4 linked regions of the Homo sapiens genome follow. The protein of the gene in region 1 interacts with the protein of each later gene in a pairwise test. Each region holds a gene or a part of one and is shown in the gene's direction. Other genes may lie near its edges.

The links. The genes of interacting proteins can lie anywhere in the genome.
Region 2: the proteins of NEK6 (region 1) and SPRY3 interact in binary tests that used the Homo sapiens proteins (3 or more experiments, as listed by UniProt).
Region 3: the proteins of NEK6 (region 1) and BEND7 interact in binary tests that used the Homo sapiens proteins (3 or more experiments, as listed by UniProt).
Region 4: the proteins of NEK6 (region 1) and SH3RF2 interact in binary tests that used the Homo sapiens proteins (3 or more experiments, as listed by UniProt).

The regions. Positions count from the first base shown.
Region 1 is NC_000009.12:124,312,901-124,317,782, forward strand, and holds part of NEK6 (serine/threonine-protein kinase Nek6), read left to right. Parts: intron 1-1,022; coding exon 1,023-1,085; intron 1,086-4,882. UniProt on the Homo sapiens protein: Protein kinase which plays an important role in mitotic cell cycle progression. Required for chromosome segregation at metaphase-anaphase transition, robust mitotic spindle formation and cytokinesis.
Region 2 is NC_000023.11:155,772,063-155,776,944, forward strand, and holds part of SPRY3 (protein sprouty homolog 3), read left to right. Parts: intron 1-1,703; 5' UTR 1,704-1,809; coding exon 1,810-2,676; 3' UTR 2,677-4,882. UniProt on the Homo sapiens protein: Inhibits neurite branching, arbor length and neurite complexity. Inhibits EGF-mediated p42/44 ERK signaling. Negatively regulates the MAPK cascade, resulting in a reduction of extracellular matrix protein accumulation.
Region 3 is NC_000010.11:13,518,656-13,523,537, reverse strand, and holds part of BEND7 (BEN domain-containing protein 7), read left to right. Parts: intron 1-4,879; exon of another isoform or gene 4,880-4,882.
Region 4 is NC_000005.10:145,994,555-145,999,436, forward strand, and holds part of SH3RF2 (E3 ubiquitin-protein ligase SH3RF2), read left to right. Parts: intron 1-1,783; exon of another isoform or gene 1,784-1,870; intron 1,871-2,662; exon of another isoform or gene 2,663-3,946; intron 3,947-4,882. UniProt on the Homo sapiens protein: Has E3 ubiquitin-protein ligase activity. Acts as an anti-apoptotic regulator of the JNK pathway by ubiquitinating and promoting the degradation of SH3RF1, a scaffold protein that is required for pro-apoptotic JNK activation.

The DNA.
Region 1 (4,882 bases):
CTCTCAACAGTCCCGTGGGTGGGGATTGTCATTTCATCTCTCAGATGAGGAAAATCTCATAACCGCCAGGGCCCCAGCATGAGTCTTGGGGGAGCTGAGGTTCATACCATGTCCACCCATCCTTGCGCCTGCGGTTGCTCCACAGTTCTGGGCTTCCTGCCTTCTGCGTCCCTCCTAAATGGAGGAAGTAGGTCAAGCGGCAAAGTCAGGACAGGAGCCATGTCCATGAGAGCCGCTGGGCCCGTCTGAACACAGCTTTGCCGGAGGAAATGGCTTTAAATCCTCCAGCAAAGCTTCCCAAGCCCCTTGATTTGCTTACTTGTCCTTAAAGAACAAGATTGAGAGCCTGGGCAGAGGAGGGCCGGGAGAGAGAATGGCGTTGGGGAAATGGGGAGAGAACACCCGCAGCTTCAGGGCGCTGGAGGAGTAGCAGGGTCCTCTCTGTCCAAAAAAGGACCAGTTTCTCTCTTGATCTTGTTTTTTTTTTGAGATAGAGTCTCAGTCTATCACCCAGGCTGTAGTGCAGTGGCGTGATCAGCTCACTGCAACCTCTGCCTCCCGGGTTCAAGCGATTCTCCTGCCTAGGTCTCTTGAGTAGCTGGGACTACAGGCGTGCACCACCACACCCAGCTAATTTTTATATTTTTAGTAGAGACGGGGTTTCACCATGTTGGCCAGGCTGGTCTCGAACTCCTGACCTCAAGTGATCCACCCACCTCAGCCTCGCTGGGATTACAGGTGTGAGCCACTGTGCCTGGCCCGCCCTCTCCATCTTCTGGGGAGGGGCTCACCTGGGCTCTCTGTCTTGGTTCTTTAGTGCCACGATGGGTTTTGTGGTGGGACAGTGCTGGGGGGACCCACAGTGAGCAAGCCCTACAGGGGCTGGGAGTGCAGGGGGGGGTCACAGAGTCCCTTGGTGAGGAGGTGGGAGAGCCGGGACTGGAAAGCAGACCCCGTGGCCTCCTTTGGGTCACTGGACACAGATTGTAACCACTCTATTTCTCTTTTTCCTCCCGCCCAAGATCTTTGAGATGATGGACGCCAAGGCGAGGCAGGACTGTGTCAAGGAGATCGGCCTCTTGAAGGTGAGCACCCTGGGCCGAGCGGGAGCTTTGCCTCCTCGGGGAGGTTCTGGGGCCGCGGCTGGGCCACATCATGTCCATCACAGCCCTTGGGTGCCAGGAATCCGCAGCCCCTGCTAAGTTAACAGACGATAGCTTTCTAGGGGCAGCGGCTAGTGAGTTTTCTCCTGGCCAGGCAGGAGCGGCCCGCCTCATCGCTCTGCCCAGCCCTTGGGGTCGCTGCCTACAGCCTTTCCTCCTTGCTGCACGCCCCTCCTGCTTGTACATGGCAGTACCCGGCATAGAAGTCCTTCCCCACAGGGCAGCCCTGACCCTGCCTCGCAGTGGCCTATGGACCAGGCTTGGCTAGGGGAGGAGTTCATTGTGGGGACCACATCCAGACTGCAGCCTGTCTGGCTCTGCCTCTGTCTCTATGTCTGTCTCCCTGTTTTTCTCTTTCTCATCCTCTTTCCATCTCTCCTCTCAGCCTTTTTCTTTGGTTTTGTTGGTAGTGGTGGTGGTGGTGGTGGTGGTGGGTTTTTTTTTTATTTTAGAGGCAAACTCTGTTGCCTGGACTGTAGTGCAGTGGCATGATCATAGCTCACTGCAGCCTCAAACTCCTGGGCTCAAGCAATCCTCCCGCCTCAGTCTCCCGAGTAGCTGGGACCACAGGCGCATGCCACCACACCTGATTTTTATTTTTTATTTCTTTTGTTTTTTTTTGAGACAGAGTTTTGCTCTTGTTGCCCAGGCTGGAGTGCAGTGGCACAATCTCTGCTCACTGCAATCCCCACCTTCTCGGTTCAAGCAGTTCTCCTGTCTCAGTCTCCTGGGATTACAGGCACCCACCACCACACCCAGCTAATTTTCATATTTTTAGTAGAGACAGCGTTTCACCATGTTGACCAGCCTGGTCTCAACCTCCTGACCTCAGGTGATCCATCCACCTCAGCCTCCCAAAGTGCTGGGATTACAGGCGGGAGCCACCGCACCCGGCCCCCCATGAAACATACTGGATTTGCTCGGCAGTTTCCAGCAAAGTGGGACTGCTGGTGGCAGGGCTGCCCGCCGAAGCCACAGCTGCAGAATTTCAGATTAGCAGTTTTTTCTGCCACACGCTGCCCTGTGTTCTCAGGCCTTGGCCCTGCTCTTGGGGACTTCCAGGCTGGTGGGGAAGCAGGTAGGAAGCAGATGGTGACCTTCCAGGGTGATGCAGATTGACTGGTGGGCCAGGAGCCCCAGGGAAACCCGCTTCCTGGGCAGGCCTCACAGAGGGCAGGGCACCATCCCAGAATCTGGAAGGCCGAAGTGAGCCTTCTTCCAGGCACCGCAGCACCGTGGATTATGGGAGGTTGGGGAGACAGAAGGCTGGACATGGCAGCAGAGCCAGATACACACTCAGAACAAAAGGGGAGCCCCTGAAGTGGCTGCAAGTCGGGGGGCCATGGCTGGGTGTGAGTTGTGAGTGCCTGCTCTGGTGGCCCCCGGCCACAGTGGGTGAGGGAGTCAAGGCTGGAGGCAGGAGGTGTCCTTACCACTAACTATTATAGGTCAAAAAATATCCCTCGAAAACATTGTTTAAATGTTTAAGTAATGGTCAGCTTGCTGCCACTTACCCAGCCCTGAGGAATGTTTGTCCTGATCACCCATTGCCCCCTCCCCACCTCATGTGCCCTTCTCCCCGAGTGAAGGAACCCACAGGTGAGCATGCTGAGCACAGCCTGGTCTGGTCCCTGGTCACACAGATGTGCCACCGCAGCCCCTGCCTTGCAGGAGCCTGAGCCTGGCGTAAACCCACATGGCTGCAGAGGGGATTTGGTCCCTTCTCCAGGGCTGCCATGCAGCCAAGGGCACCAAGCCGGGGTTTCAGAGGACACACCCCTCGCTCACTAGCTGTGTGGCTGCAGGCCAGCCATGGGCCTCTCAGGACCTCAGTTTCCTCATCTGTAAAGGGGGCATGATGACAACAGGGACGCTGGAGGAGTCAGTGAGGAAGCATGTCTGACGAGCTCAGGGCAGCGCTGGTGTGTGGTACGCTCGCCGCCCAAGGCAGCCCAGTTGTCATGGTTGCCACCTCTGCCCGCCAATGCCAGCCGCCTTCCCGAACACGGGTCCCACTCCACAGGTAGCCCATGGGAAGTCAACAGGATGTGCCAGGGCACGAGGTGCTTCCTACAAAACAAAAGGAAACGTGGTTTTCGGAGGGGTGACTGTTGACATATCACATCATTCATGCAAAGAACCCAAACCCAAAACCTCTCAAGTGCGGGGGCTGGTGGGGTCGGCAGCTGCCAAGCGTGGGACAAGAAGGTGGGTCCTGTTGGAACGCAGGCGTGTGTTCATTCATTCTGTGCAATTTCTGATCACCACTGAATGCTGGACACCAGGGTGCAGCCCAGTGGAGAAGACAGATCATAGACACTCTGTGTTACATCCGGGAGGGCCTGGAGCTTGGGAGCAGAGCCCCTGATGGCAGAGATTCAAAGGACAGGGACCCTTACTCTCAGCTCTCCCTCCCTTCCCTCTGGCCACCACCACAGCCAGACAAAGCCCAACCACATTGCGTCTTTGCAGCACCTTCCCTGTCCCTGACCCAAGTGTGTCCCCTTCCAGACCCACCTGGGCCCACCAAGAGGCCACAGGCTGTGAAGTGGACTCCATGTGGACCAGGTTCTAGACTCAGCTCGGCCCCTGCTTGCTGTGGACCCGTGGCTGATCCCTTCCCCTCTCTGGACCTTGGCGATTTAGCCCAATGGACGTCTGGAGCCCCTTTCTGCCTGTGCCTGTGTAGACTGCCTGGGCATTTAAGGGAGCCCTTCCTTAACCCCCTGCCCTCAGACGTGCAGGGAAATGGGGGAGGAGTCTCCCTCCTCCCCTCCCCAGGAACCAGCGCCTCCTTGATGGGGCTTTACTTCCTACCCAACCCCTCTCATTTCTCCCTTGTTGGAGAAACTGTGTCATGCCTGGACTGCTGATGACCTGGGCAGTTTTTGGGGAGTCCTCCCTGAGAGGTTGTGAGATTTCCTGGTGACATAATGAGGTGAAGTTCAAGAGGAGGGTGAAGGAGCAGGGTGTTCCCATTTATCCTCATAGCAGCTTGCCCACGCCGTAGGTCATGTCTCAGAGATTTGAAGGCACTTTCAACTTGCCATTCACTTGCTTTGACACTTTTTTTGGTAACTGAAAAACATGTCTATGGAGCATGATGTGTGCTGAGGGCAGCGATGTGATGGCCAGTGTTCGCGCAGGACGTCCTTTTCAACACAAAATCTGGGCAAGAGGATTTTCTTTTCTTTCTTTCCTTTTTTGATAACAGGGTCTCGCTCTGTCACCCAGGCTGGAGTGCCGTGGTGCGATCTCGGCTCACTACAACCTCCGAGTAGCTGGAATAACAGGTGTGCACCACCACACCCGGCTAATTTTTGTGTTTTTGTAGAGACGGGGTTTCACCATGTTGGCCAGGCTGGTCTTGAACGCCTGACCTCAGGTGATCCACCCGCCTCGGCCTCCCAAAGTGCTGGCATTACAGACATGAGCCACCACGTCTGGCCCACCTTCTTTTTTAAATTTCCATTTTTATTTTAGATTCAGAGGGTACACATGCAGGTTTGTTACAAGAGTATATTGTGTGATGCTGAGATTTGGGCTTCTGATCCCGTCACGCAGATAGTGAACATCATACCCAATGGGAAGTTTTTCAGCCCTTGCCCCACTCCCGCCCCCTCTTGTAGAGCCCAGTGTGTCTACTGTTTCCATCTTTATGTTTGTGTGTACCCAGGATTTAGCTCCCACTTATAAAAGTGAGAACATGCAGTATAGAT
Region 2 (4,882 bases), on another chromosome or scaffold:
GAGTCTGAGAGTTTCCATAATATTTATTTGCATTCTCTTATGCTGCATTTATTTAACACCAAAACAACTAGTTAAAAAGTGAAATTTTTGTCAGACTGGTTCTTTGATGTGATATGCCAAAAAGGTTATTTGTAACCAAATTAAATCTTTTCAAGTAATGAGCAGATGTAAATTCAGCTTATCAGGTTTGCATGAGGATATAGCCTCAAAAGTCAACTGAGTCTGGTCATATTATTAGCCACTGAGTCCTTTATGAACTGCATCCTTGTTTTTCCTGTTATTGAGCTTTGGGCCCATTTCAGTGTCATGTTTGCTTGCTTATGGAAACGTAATCAAGCACCATCCTCTCTCACTTGTTCATTTCTATTACTCATTCAAGCTATCCATCACATACAGTAGTGTGAGTAATTGATCTATTTTGAGAAGGCCTGAAATCTGATGGATCTCAAATATATACTTTATTCATGCTAGTGTTTTGCTACGTCCTAATGCCTCCAGGATGTTTCCTGGATTTGTGTTTAGGTTTCTTCATGTACACCTTTTTGACTCTTCAGTCTTCTAGGTGGTGCAATACAGCAGTCTGCTATTTGTACAGTATTTTCCCCATGGTCATCATTATCAGTTCTAGGCTTGGTAAAATCCTTCAGGGAATGACCAACCACCTCTTCCTGACTGTAGTACAATGGAAATGCAAGCATATGCTTTCTAGACATTCAACTTAGCTTAAATATGGTATAAGAATATCACTTTCCTTTAAGAAAGTCAGTTTATTGTGTAAGGTAGTGATAGAGAAAAGAAGTCCAAGCAGATTCTGCTTGGTAAGTCTCATCAATATGGAGGTGACTTAGGATAGTAATAGGTATAATTACAGATGATTTTTGAAATAATTCAGGACTTGTCTTCTATAGTTCCTTGATCCCCAGTATTACTCCCACGTGTACAAAAGTTTGATTCTGGAGCCTCCATTCCATTTAAAAAGAATCACTTCCTTAGTAAGTTAAAGCAGCCAGTAAGGTGAAGAGAACTGCAAGATGATTAGTCTTGGTTTCCTTATACTCTTGGGAAGCCTTTTTTTTTCCTACTACACTGCAGACAGCTTAATTCCTACCTTCTGTGTGTTTGCTGTATCTCTGCCTTTATTGCATTCTCCTTGCTTGCCTGTATTCACTGAATCAAGTAATGTCCTTTCTTATCTGTTTATTTCTGCTTATCACAAATTCACACTGAAAAGATAATTTTGATTGGATATATATATATATATATATATATATATATATATGAGCAACTTCTCATGGGAGACTTTTGAGGCTTTCTCTTTTCCTTCAGCATTGCTTCAGAAAATAGCCTTTGCAGTTAATATTAGGTTCCATTTGTATTAGAATTCTGATGCCCAAGGCTTGGATGTCTCTGCTAGCAAATACCTGAATGAGCTAGCTGCTCCTGTGAAACTAGGCATTTGATGGAATACAAAAAGAATCAACTATCTGATATTTGTTCCCAAACTTCTTTATAGTCTGGAGGGGATGATGAGATTTGCCTATAAAGAAGTAAGTGAGGTTAATTACAGAATAAAGGTGTAGCATGAAGATTACTGTAAAGTAATTGAAGGTAGTGGTGGTGATAGGGCCTGAGCTTTGTTGGTTTCTTGCAAAGTACTTATGCCTGTGTGTTCTCATTTACTGTTTTTATGCCTTCTCTCCTAGGATTTTCTCATGTGCCCTGAAATCCATGTAACTACAAGGGCTCCTCTTTATCACCATAAGTGCCACCCTGACTTAAAACCACTCAGAGCTAAAAAATCAAGGCAAAATGGATGCTGCGGTGACAGATGATTTTCAACAAATTCTGCCTATTGAACAGCTGCGCTCTACTCATGCTAGCAATGACTACGTGGAACGGCCTCCAGCCCCCTGTAAACAGGCCCTCTCCAGCCCTTCCCTTATTGTGCAAACCCACAAGTCTGATTGGTCTCTGGCTACCATGCCTACTTCTCTCCCCCGCAGTCTCAGCCAGTGCCATCAACTGCAGCCCTTGCCTCAGCATCTGAGCCAATCTAGCATTGCCAGCTCAATGTCCCATAGCACCACTGCCTCTGATCAAAGGCTCTTGGCCAGCATTACACCCTCACCTTCAGGCCAATCCATCATCCGAACCCAACCTGGAGCAGGGGTCCACCCAAAGGCTGATGGTGCTCTGAAGGGAGAAGCTGAGCAATCTGCAGGGCACCCTAGTGAGCACCTCTTCATCTGTGAGGAATGTGGGCGCTGCAAGTGCGTCCCCTGCACAGCAGCTCGCCCTCTCCCCTCCTGCTGGCTGTGCAACCAGCGCTGCCTTTGCTCTGCTGAGAGCCTCCTCGATTATGGCACTTGTCTCTGCTGTGTCAAGGGCCTCTTCTACCACTGCTCCACTGATGATGAAGACAACTGTGCTGATGAGCCCTGCTCTTGTGGGCCTAGTTCTTGCTTTGTCCGCTGGGCAGCCATGAGCCTCATCTCCCTCTTCCTACCCTGCCTGTGCTGCTACCTGCCTACCCGTGGATGCCTCCATCTGTGCCAACAGGGCTATGATAGCCTCCGGCGACCAGGCTGCCGCTGCAAGAGGCACACCAACACTGTGTGCAGAAAGATCTCTTCTGGTAGTGCACCCTTCCCCAAGGCCCAGGAAAAGTCTGTATGACCTTCCAACAAGGTGGATCCAGAGCTTTTCTCCTTCGAGTCCCCAACAGCAAAGCATAGGCCTCATCTTTGGAGAGGGGGAGGAGTGATAAACTAGCCAAAGTTAGGGCCTCTCTTTTGTTCCTGCAGTGTCAGGGGAATGACCAAGTACATCCTGGTGCAGGATGCCTTGTTCTTTCTCACAGTATCTATCCCACTCCTCTTCAGTCTTTACACCCTGCCAGCTCAGCCTTTATGGTTGTCATGGCAAATTCAGGTGATATATGGGTATGAGGTTTGAACACTGAGGACTGACAGGGCCAGCAACGTGGAGGTTTAGGGGCTCCCCAATGTAATACCTCTCGATGCAGGCTCTGATCGTCACTCTGTTTTCTGCTGTGCCTTTGGAAGCTTTCTTCTAAGATGGTTTTCACAGGTACATGTGGAACAGCGTTCAACCTTCCAGGGAATACGACCCCTTCTCCCTGTTACTGCCCTTCTCTTCTTTATTCCTCTCTCCTCTTTCATTATTCTGTTCTGTATTCCTTTCCCCTTCATTCTCACCCTGTCTGCTTTTACTTTTTCTCTTTCTTCCTCCCTTTCTCCTTCTCCCCTCCTTCTTTTTCAGACTGATCCTTTCTCTGCCTGTATTTCTATCTCATTTGATCTATATTTGTCTCTCTCTACCTGTCCCTTTTTCTCTAACATGTCCAAAAGTGCTGTTTTTCCATAGATGTTTCCTTAGATGCCAAACTTTGCTATGCTATACTATTTACTAATTTTTATTAAGGGAAATGGATTACTGTAATGAACTGATCACTAGCAATAGTGTGTATCCCGATGTGTGTGTGTGCTCACAACCACTCTCACCTGTTCGTGAGCGCATGAGGCGAAGTTATCTTATATTTCCAGGTTTAACTAGTTGGAGTTTTTCTCCCTTTCTCAATAATCAACTTATAGTGCTGACAGATTCCACTAGCATGCTGAGTAGGATAGTAAATCAGGATGCTCATAACTTTGTATGTCTGACCCAAGTGCCAAAGGCAGACGTGCTTTATAGCTAAATGAACAAAGCAAAGGATACAGAGGTATGTTCTCTCTTAGAAGCTAACTTCCCTGAGACTGCATGGCTCAGGCGTTAATAATGGACATAAAAAGTCATAAAACGTTAGAGCTGGAAGGAATCTTAACTATTAATCTAGTTCAATGCCCTTATTTTACAGATGGGAAAACTGAGGCCTGGAGGTAGGAAGGGACTTGCCCCCAAGGCCGCACACTGAGTTAACAGCAGAATTGAGACTGGAATATAGGCCTTCTGACTCCTAGTTCAGTATTCTTACCCCTGTACCACATTGAGTCATGGGACTTTTTCCTAGGGCTCTATTAACAGTGACAGAAAGCCATTCCCATTCAATTACTTTTCAGGAACCATGCCTAGTTAGTGTGGTGGTCTTTCTCCAGTGCATGGTGGGTAGCTAATTAACTATCAGGTGTTGAGGCTGCCCCCAGTGGACATCACCTTTGGCTCTGTCACCTTGTAGAAGCTCAAGTGTGGAAAAGAAAAGCTTAAAGAAGCCCTAACCAAGCTGTATCTTCGCCATTGCATCTACTCTTTGCTGCACACACTGTGCTTGCTCCTGGCTTTGTCTGCAATGGCAGCTGCCTGAGAACTTAAATTTCAGCAACAGTGAAAAACTGAGATGAAAGATGTATAATGTAGAGAACTGACTTCTCTCTTAAAAAGTACAGAGAGCCTGTGCTGTGAACCCCCTTCAATGGGAAAAAGCTGCAGTGGTGATGGCAGGCTCCTAAAGACTGCTGCTAAAAGACACAAGAATTATACAGTTTCCCTCTATAAGTGAATCCAAAATTCACTGACGAATTCAGAGATTGAGGGCACTTGCTTGAAATCAAGGTGCTCCAACTTAGTTTAAGACCTCCAGACTCTAACTTTATAGATCATCTCTTCTAGAGTGTGCATGGATGTGTGTTGCAGGGTGGAGAAGTGGGGAGAAGTGTATAGTAGTACACGGGGGGAAGAGGGGACCTCCATGTCCCTTTGTTGGATACATATTACAGAAATATGTGCCACTCACTTTTTGTTGGTTCTGAATCTTCCTGAAGTGTACTGACATTTGGGCTGCACAGAGCCCCACACCTTCACTTACACCTCCTCTTCTAGAATTGCTTTGCTCTATTTTTGTATATATAAATATGTTATGATGATT
Region 3 (4,882 bases), on another chromosome or scaffold:
GGTCTATAGGATTTTCTACATTCAAACATATGTGTTCCCTTTAATAGTATCTGCATCTATAAGATCAAAGTTTATGTTCTAGGTGAAAAAGAGTCTTCTAGAATGTGGCAGAGGTTCCCACATCAAGTCTACCTCTCTGGAACATGTTTAGGCTGTTAACGAACGTAGTGTATCTCACATGGTAGGGTAGCTCAGTAGTGTAAATGGCTTGGCCTCGTGCTTTAGGAATTACTCACATATTTTTAATTGGATAATAGGGTCAGAAGACGTTACTTTACCCTGTGGACATTGACTTTCTCAAGCTGGCTGTGATGGGACTACAGTGAAGATTTAAGCACTGTTTGAAAGGAAACAGTTCTCTTAAATCAGTTCAGCCAGTGTCTTTATAGAAGATACTCTGAACTCAGCACTTTTCTGGAATGGGAGTGGGGTCAGAGATAGTCACAGAAATGGATAGGACAGGGACCTTGTTCTCAGGGATTCAGATCCAGCTGGGGAGGAGACAGGACAAATTCAGGAAACGGAGCAGTATTCAGCAATCGTAAGAGCTACAGTTGTTTGAGCACTTAACTGTGTGCAAGGCAGCACACTGAGCACTTTACATGAAAGACCTGATTTGCTCTTTGCAGCATGTCTGTATGAGTTACCGTCATCCCCATTTTGTAGATGAGCCTAGAGATGTCGAGGTGACCTGCCCAAGGTCTCTCAAGTAGGAAGTGCCACAGGTAGGGTTCCAGTGCAGGTCTGTCTGAGCTTTGAACACTCCACTTAACCGCCTGTCTGTGAACGGTAATTAAATGACAAATGTGAATGATCAGGGCAACAGCAAATGCAGAGTTGGAAGGGGTAGAGGGGAGGGCTCTGCAAAGCAGAGATGTTGAACTACAGGAAAGATTCGCTCCTGTATTTCTCCTCCCTGGAGAAGATTCCAGGTGGGAAGGGTGAGGGAGCCGCCAATAAGCATCATTATAGCTCGACCATGAGTGTTGCACTTATGGTTTAGAAAGTGCTTTCACATCTGTCTTCTCGGGATTTTTACCATATACCTGTGGGGTAGTCAGGGCAGATATAATGATTCCTATAATGATGGGAACCGAAGCTCAGTTACCTGACCTCACGAATAGCAGAGGCCGGAGTAAACCCAGGCCTCCTCTCAAAAGATCTTTCCCCTCTGCCCTGTGGAGCCAGGCAAAGCCAAGGCTCATGGAGGAGGCCTTAGCTGCTAGCAGGGCACTTTTAGAAGGATTTTAATGAGACAATTAATTTATTATTCATAGCAGTAATGCAAATATAAAATGAAGTCTCTTTTCACACATTGGATTTTGGGTTAGATTTATCATAGTATGTACATTGGAAACATGTTTATCTGTCAGGTGTTCAGTCTCATTCATTTATTCATTCAACAAATTCATTGCGCTCCATTTACATCCATGCCAAGCCCTGTTCTAGTTATTCTTTTTAATATTCAGTTCAGTTATTCAGCTTCCCATAGATGAAGCACACAGTGTGGCAGCCATGCCAGCTGAGCAGGGTCGACATCTCTGAAACTCTGAAGTCTCTTTTCAGTGGCTTTCTTGATGACAGCTGCACCCACTAGAGTCCCCAGAATCTCCCCAAAGAGGACACACTCGAACAATTCCTCTGCACTTTTACAAGTTAGAGAGTTATCTCCCAGCCACGACATCGTTCTCCTCCCTGGAGGACTCGGCAGGTCCGTCTGTAAAATGGAGGAGGTCTTCACCTGGAGTCAGGTGGCCTGGGTCCCACCCTGGTTCTTGGTTGGTTTCAAAAGGCTTGGGAGCTGAGCCCCACTTCCAAGAGGAAGAAGGGTCTAGTGTGTCACCATACCTGGGGCAGGAGTTGCAACCTCAGAGGAAATGAAGGGCCAAGGGGGAAAAGTGGAACCCCAAAATCCCAGTATGTGGAAGCAAGTGCTTCCCCTCTGTTCCTCCCCACAAAAGCTCCACCTTCAGCACCCTGGCCCCACTGTGTCCTTGTGTCCCTGTGCTCCTTCTTGTAAGTCCTCTCCTTTTTTGGTGGTGGAATGAATGGGACAGATGACCAGGAGTGTCTCTTGGGGTTAGGTACGTGGCCAGTAATAGTGTTATTTACCCAGAGCTTGCTGTGTGCCAGCACTATGTAAAGGACTTTGTAAATGTTATCCCATTAATTGTCCCAAGAAACGTGTTGTTTTTCCCTCTTTATGGATGAAGAATTTGAGGAGTTCACAGAGTTACTCAGTGCCAGAGCCAGGATGCAAGCCAGGGTCTGCCTGTCTCCAAAGCAAGCCCTTAACCGCATGGCAGGCTTTGTTCAAACGTGCTCCCAAGCGGAACCCCCAGTATGTCCAGCAGATCAAAGGGGAGCAGAGCTGCTTGAAAAAAGGTCGAGGAGACCCAGAGAGCCTTACGTGCATTTCACATTCCTCTGTGGGCCTCTGCAGAATGTTAGGGCGCCCCCAGTCACTGTTTTAAAACTCCTGGTCTAGACAGTTCCCAAGGCTTCATACAGCACCTGATTTGTCCGATTATACTCTAGGACCGAAAAATGGCTTCAAAAATAATTGCAAGCAAAGTCAAAGTTTGGAGAGCCTCTTGAGGGAACTTAAATACCGATGGCTTCTTTCAATTTATGTGCACATAAACATATGTTTCGGTAGCTGTGGATGCAGAACTTGGTCGTTCTCACGTATGACTTGTTGCCTAAAGTCTGGGAGGCATTTGTAGTTAGGCCATCCGGGCACTCCATCTCTCATTTAGTTTCTATTGCAGCTACACTGTGAGGTTGCTGTTGGGTCGGCCTCATGTTTTACAAATGGGAACCTCAACTCAGGGATGAAAGTGATTTGCCCAAGGCTACATGGTCATTAGTAGCTGACCACACTTTCCAGTGGGGTCTCCTGACATCCACTTCTGAGTTCTTCACCTTGTCAGAGCTGCCACAGCTCCTTGCTCCAATCTGCCCACGTGGGCTGATCTCAGTACGTAACTTCTCACCCTCTCTCCTGCTTAGAGACTTCAGCTCCCTTGTCATGGGCCTAGAATCAAGGCAAAGCCCTTCACTGAGTGTCTAGTATGCACGGTCTGACCCGACCCATCTCCCTGTCCACAGCTTTCATGTAACCGCCTTCCCTTGAGCCAACCGGCTTCCTAAACCAGGACTTCCAGGTGCAGAGGAGGCACCACAGGGAGAAGGAATGGGGTGGGCAGGAGCTATGGCCTGGGAAAGCCCCTCCTGCTGGGAAGAAAGGAGCTAGGGCTTGTTTACTGCCTCCGGTGTGTGCTGGGCACTTCCGAACTTTATCTCATTTAACACTGAGACCAGCTCTGAGAAGGTATTGTCATTTCTACTTTTATATGAGAAAAATGGGCCTTTAGAATTGTTAATGTACGTAAGGTCATAGAACTAGGAGACAAGAGCCTGGATCTGGAATTTGGACATGGCCTGGCCACGATCTTTCCACTGTACCATGCTGCCTTGGAGGAGTGAGGCCCCGCTCTCCTCTCTCTTTCAGTTCGCTGTCTGTTTCTAAACCGCCCTTCCAGCCTTCTCTTGCTCTTCACCCTCACTGAAAACATGTGCTGTGTCAAACTGATCACATCATTCCCTCCTAAAGCACCTTCCCATTCTCATCTCTGCCATTTCACTGCGGCTCCTTCTCCATCCTAGCCTCCTACCATTCCTTACCCCATTTCCAAACTCCTTCTAGTAAAATCCTGTCTCTCCTATCGGTTTTTAAAGCTCAATTCAAATATTACCTTGGCCTGTAAGCCGCCTCAGTTTACATAGCGTAGCAGAGAGAAGTTGGATTTAGAGTCAGAAAACCTTGCTTTGAATCTCAGGCTCCAGTTCTAACACCTTGGATAACACTCTTGAGGGGTTTTCCTCATCTTCTGTAATAGAAGAATAACGTTGGCCCTCCTGACGCACATGCGAAATCCTGTATGGTAAAACGCTTTTTCAAACTGGAAAACACTGTATTTCTGTTTTTATTACCCCATTCTCTCTCCTTCTCCCAGATTTAGGAGTTATCTTTTCTTTTTTTTTTTCTTTCTTTTTTTTGAGACGGAGTCTCGCTCTGTTGCCCAGGCTGGAGTGCAGTGGCGCCATCTCGGCTCACTGCAAGCTCCACCTCCCGGGTTCACGCCATTCTCCTGCCTCAGCCTCCCGAGTAGCTGGGACTACAGGTGCCCGCCACCACACCCGGCTAATTTTTTTGTATTTTTTTTAGTAGAGACGGGGTTTCACCATGTTAGCCAGGATGGTCTCGATCTCCTGACCTCGTGATCCACCTGCCTCAGCCTCCCAAAGTGCTGGGATTACAGGCGTGAGCCACCGTGCCCAGCCTAGGAGTTATCTATTCTTCCGATCACTTGGGCACTAAGTAATAACATTACTCTTTTCTGGCACTTACCATGTGATGCCTAATATTTACTTATTTTTGTGTGTGGCTTTATTGTGCTCAAGTCACCCTGCAGATCCTCCTCCGAAACTTAACAGCTGCCACATTGAAATGTGGTTGTTTATTTTCAGGACTCTCCTAATCGCTCCTAATGTAAATTGTCAGATCCTAGAGGGCAAATGTGACCTGAGTTCATTTTGGATCCTTTGAGAACCTAGCACAATGCTGTATCCGTAATAGGTACTCTGCTGATAGGTCCTCAGATATGTGATTTAAATGCATGAATATATTGGACACTGTCGTTAGGACTCTGAAGATTTATTGTAAAGTATACTGCTATATTGAGATTTTAGAGACATTTAGTGAGCCAAACTAAAAGATGCCTCATTTAACTTTAAGCTTCTGTAACATACTAGAGTAGAAATTTGGGATTTCTGATGTTGATTTGTGAGATACAACTTCTTTTTTCAAATCCAGAAG
Region 4 (4,882 bases), on another chromosome or scaffold:
AGAGAAAATGAGGAAGAAACAAAAGCGGAAACCCTTGATACACCCATCAGATCTCATGAGACTTTTATTCACAATCATGAGAACAGCACAGGAAAGATTTGCCCCCATGATTCAATTACCTCCCACCAGGCCCTTCCCAAACACGTGGGAATTCAAGTTGAGATTTGGGTGGGGACACAGCCAAACCATATCATTTTCTGATCCCCAGTTTTTTAATCTAAAAATTGACATTTGAAATAATACACACCTCAAAGATTGTTGTGAGAATTAGAGAGTGCTTAGCAAAGAGAATTAGAGCACTTAGCAAAGAATCTGGCACAAGAAAGAAGCACTCAGTAAAGGTTAGCTATTGATATTATCATTATGCAAATCTAAAGGGGCTTAGATCTTTTCTTCTTTATCTTCTCATTCTCCCTTTCTTTCCTTTTCTCTTTTCTGTTTTTCATAAATAATAAAAAAAAAGCCTCACAGTTCATTCAGCAAGGTGGAAGTTTATTTAGCTCTCCACCAAAAGTCTGGATGTGAAGTAATCCAGGATGGGTGTGGAAGCTCTGAAACCCAGGCCCCTTCCCTATTAGGTGTGGCCCTCGTCCTCAGTATTCAAGATGGCAGCTAGAGCTCTAGGGATCATGTCTGCATTCCACATAGCAAGATGGAGGAGAGGAAAAGAAAACTCCGGACGGATGCTTCCTAAAGGTTGCTTACTCCCACACTGGCCTGGACTTAATCACCAGAAAGGCTAAAAATGTGACCAATATTCCAGGTAGTCATGTACCCAGAAAAATGTGATATTACAATGGAAAATTGAGAGGAAGAAGTATGGAGGAACAATTATTGTTCCCTGATGTACCCAACCCCGGGGGTCTAACAGATTTGGGTCATTCCCCAGAAACCCATTCTCATCCAGCTTTTACGTGCTTATTTCTCAGGTAGGGAACACCTTCCCCAAAAAAGTTAGTTGCATAGTTTGCTTATCCTACTCAGCTTGGCTTACTTTCTAAATTCCTCTCATACCTTTTACCTCTCATCCACCAACTTCATTCATTTTCTAACTGTCCAATTTTAATAAGCAATACAATTATTTTATTATAGAAAAGTTAGAGAACACAGCTAAGCACTTAGAAAAAAAGCGTTTTTTCAATATTCAAAAATCTCACCACTTAGAGATAACCACTTCTAAAATATTGGCATATAGTCATCTAACATTTTCCCTAGATAAAAAACATACATATGTATTTATAATGAAAATCTAGTCTACATAATTATTCTTAACCTCTTCTGTTACACTTAATGGTATATTATCAGTAACGCTCAATATTATTAATTATAGAAAAACATCAATTTTAATGACTGCAAAGTTTTTCATTGTATGGGTATGGGTGTATAATAATTTATTCAACCAATTCCCTGTTTATTCCACAGCATTATGTTAAACCCCCTAGCACATATATCTTTGCTCATTTGTCCACCAGTTTCCTGGGGATGAGCTGTGTTCCTGTGGTTTTTTCACCCCTGGGGTCTCCTTACTTATCTGGGGACCAGCAGAAAAGGACACCTCCACCATTCCATCAGCAAAGTAATGTTGGGTCTTATCTCTACCACTAAGCTGCTCGGAATTCTTCTTTCAAATGATCATTGCGGATTCAGGAGATCCATGAAGACCTAAATTAATGCCTCTCTATACCCCACTGCATGAATAGCAAGATTATGAACAGCAAGACTGCTACAATGCGAGGTGATTACATAATCCCACTGCTTGGAAAAGCACAAAATAAAATACGACCTTAGGTGACTGAAGCACTTCCTCTTAGTCTGTTAGAACTTGCAGTTTACCCAGCAGACTTCGAGCAAGACTGGAGTGAGGCCATTTCTATGTGAAAAAAACAATTTCAATTAGTAAAAATGCATTTGACTGAAATAATTATTTAGACAACTGATTTGACAAACGATTATGCTTGAGCTGATTTTTTTTAAAAAACTGACGATTGATCTCTGACTAATTGTTTCTTTGTCTCAGCTGAGCTTCCTAATGATCCAAATGCTCATTTTATAAATGAATACAGTTTAAGAAAGATTAAGTAACTTAGCCATGATTACACAAAAGGAAAGAAGTAGAGCCAGAATTCAAAATCAGTATTCAGACCCAGAAAGAGTCACTGACTCCCATCTCATAGACGTAGAGTCAAGTTCACAGCCCTGTTCCTTGGGTAGTGATTAAGAAAAGGGGTTCCAGCATCAGGTAATCTGAGTTCATGTCCCATATCTGCCATTTCCCAGTTGTGTCATCTTATGCAAGTTAATAAACCACTCTGTGTCTCTGTCACCCTATCTTATAAATGGGGATGATGCGTGTCTATCTCCAAGGGCTGCCTAGATTAAATGAGATGATCCACATACACACTTAGCACATAGGAAGTGCTCGGTAATTAGTTATTAATGTTATGTAGGTGTCGTCTGAAAACCTTGGCCAAAAGGGTCATAGACATGGCGGTCATCAGGGTTCAGGTGTACATGTGAAGGTTTGTTACACAGGTAAACTCGTATCACGGGCATTTGTTGTGCAGGTTATTTCATCACCCAGCAATGAATGAGACTTCCTGTTGCTCCTCATTCTCCCCAGCATTTACCATTGTCAATGTCTCAGATTTTCACCCTGCTAGTAGATGGGAAAACTGACAACCATGCCTGCAAGTCTGATACATGCATCTGTAAATGTACATGGAACCAAAGAAGAGGAATCCAAAAAGCAGCTAGTGAAACCAGAGCAGCTCCCCGTATATACTGCACCACCGCTCCAGTCTAAATATGTTGAAGAGCAGCCTGGTCATTTATAAATGGGCTTTGCTTCCATCTACACTGCAACTGGTCATTATACTGGCTGGTGCAAGGATGTTTATGTCTTTGTGAAAAATGGGATAATGGATACAGTACAATTTGGGAAAGATGCTTATGTCTATCTGAAGAATCCTCCTCGAGATTTTCTTCCGAAAATGGGAGTTATTACGGTTTCAGGATTGGTGGGCTTGGTTTCAGCGAGAAAAGGTTTTAAGTTTAAGAAAATTACTTATCCTCTGGGACTGGCCACTTTATGAGCAACTGTTTGCTACCCAGTTCAGTCAGTAATAATTGCTAAGGTAACAGGGAAAAAGGTATATGCTACAAGCCAGCAAATTTTTGAAGCAGTTAAATCATTGTGGACAAAAAGCAGCAAAAAAAGAGTCACTCCCTAAACCTAAAGAAAAAAAATTAAGCTAGGATCCCCCGCCGAAATAGAAGTACCTGCAAAAACAACTCACATCTTGAAATGCTCAGTGCCCTTGCCAACAGAACTCAGCTCTGAAGCAAACACCAAATCAGAATCCACCTCAGGTGCTACACAGTTTATGCCTGACCCCAAGTTCATGGATCACAGGTGGTCCCACCCAGAACATATAGACAAGTATAGCACTGGAACCTGAAGCAGACTGCATAGAGAGACTACATAGAAAACTACAAGATGTATGAAGTTGCAAATAATGATGAAAAAAATCATGTAATGGGTAACTGATACATAGAGTATTATTTAAACCAAGTTTTTCCCTTACCTCTCCAAATGTGCAATTTGATAAATTGCATAAGTGGTTAACACACAAACTGTGAATGCAATGCAAACAATATTAAATGATTGATGAGGAGACTTAGGTAGAAGTATTAGCTTGAATTTAATGAGCTTTAGGGGCCCATAGTTAAAAAAAAAAAAAAAAAGACATGAACTCCAGTGAGACTAAAATCTGAAAATGCATATATGTATGTATAAAGACATACATATTTATATGTATAATCATATATTTCTGCTCTAGCTTTCCCTAATTAATGTCAGTTAAATTAGAATGGTGTGTAGAAAGATGTGTTTCCCTCTTTTTTTCCATTTCCTAGAGCTGGAATAAAATATCCATGTTTTATGGGAAAAAAAAGTATTATGCAGGTATGCCCCAGAGATAGTGTAGGTTCAGTTTTGGACCACCACAATAAAGCTAATACCATAATAAAGCAAGTCAAACACTTTTTTTTCATTTCCCAGTGCATATAAAAGTTGTATTTGGCTGGGCATGGTGGCTCACGCCTGTAATGCCCTTTGGGAGGCCAAGGTGGGTGGATCATGAGGTCAGGAGATCGAGACCATCCTGGCCAACATAGTGAAACCCCGTCTCCACCAAAAATACAAAAATTAGCCAGGTGTGGTGGTGTGCGCCTGTAATCCCAGCTAGTCGGGAGGCTGAGGCAGGAGAATCACTTGAACCCGGGAGGTGGAGGTTGCAGTGAGCTGAGATCACACCACTGGACTCCAGCCTGGCAACAGAGCAAGACTCCATCTCAGAAAGAAAAGAAAACAAAAAAGTTGTGTTTACACTATGCTGTAGTCTATTAAGTGTGCAATAGCATTATGCCTAAAAAACAATATATCTAACTTAATTTAAAATACTTTATTACTAAAAAAAAAACCTTAATGATGATCTGAGCCTTCAGCAAGTTGTAATCTTCTTGCTGGTGGTGGGTCTTGCCTCAATATTGATGGCTTGTTGCTTCACCTTGCATTTTTATGTTATAGAGACAGCTTCTCTTCTTAAACCTCAGACTATCTCTGCCAGCTTCAAACTTTTTTTCTGCAGCTTCCTCATCTCTCTCAGCCTTCATAGAATTAAAGAAAGTTAGGATCTTGATCTTGATTAGGCTTTGGCTTGAGGGTCTGTTGTGTCTGGTTTGATCTTCTACACAAACCAGTCAAACTTTCTCCATATCGGCAATAAGGCTGATTCACTTACTTATCATTTATGTATTCACTGCAGTAGCACTTCTGATTTCCTTCATGAACTTTTCTTTTGCATTCACAGCTTGACTGTTT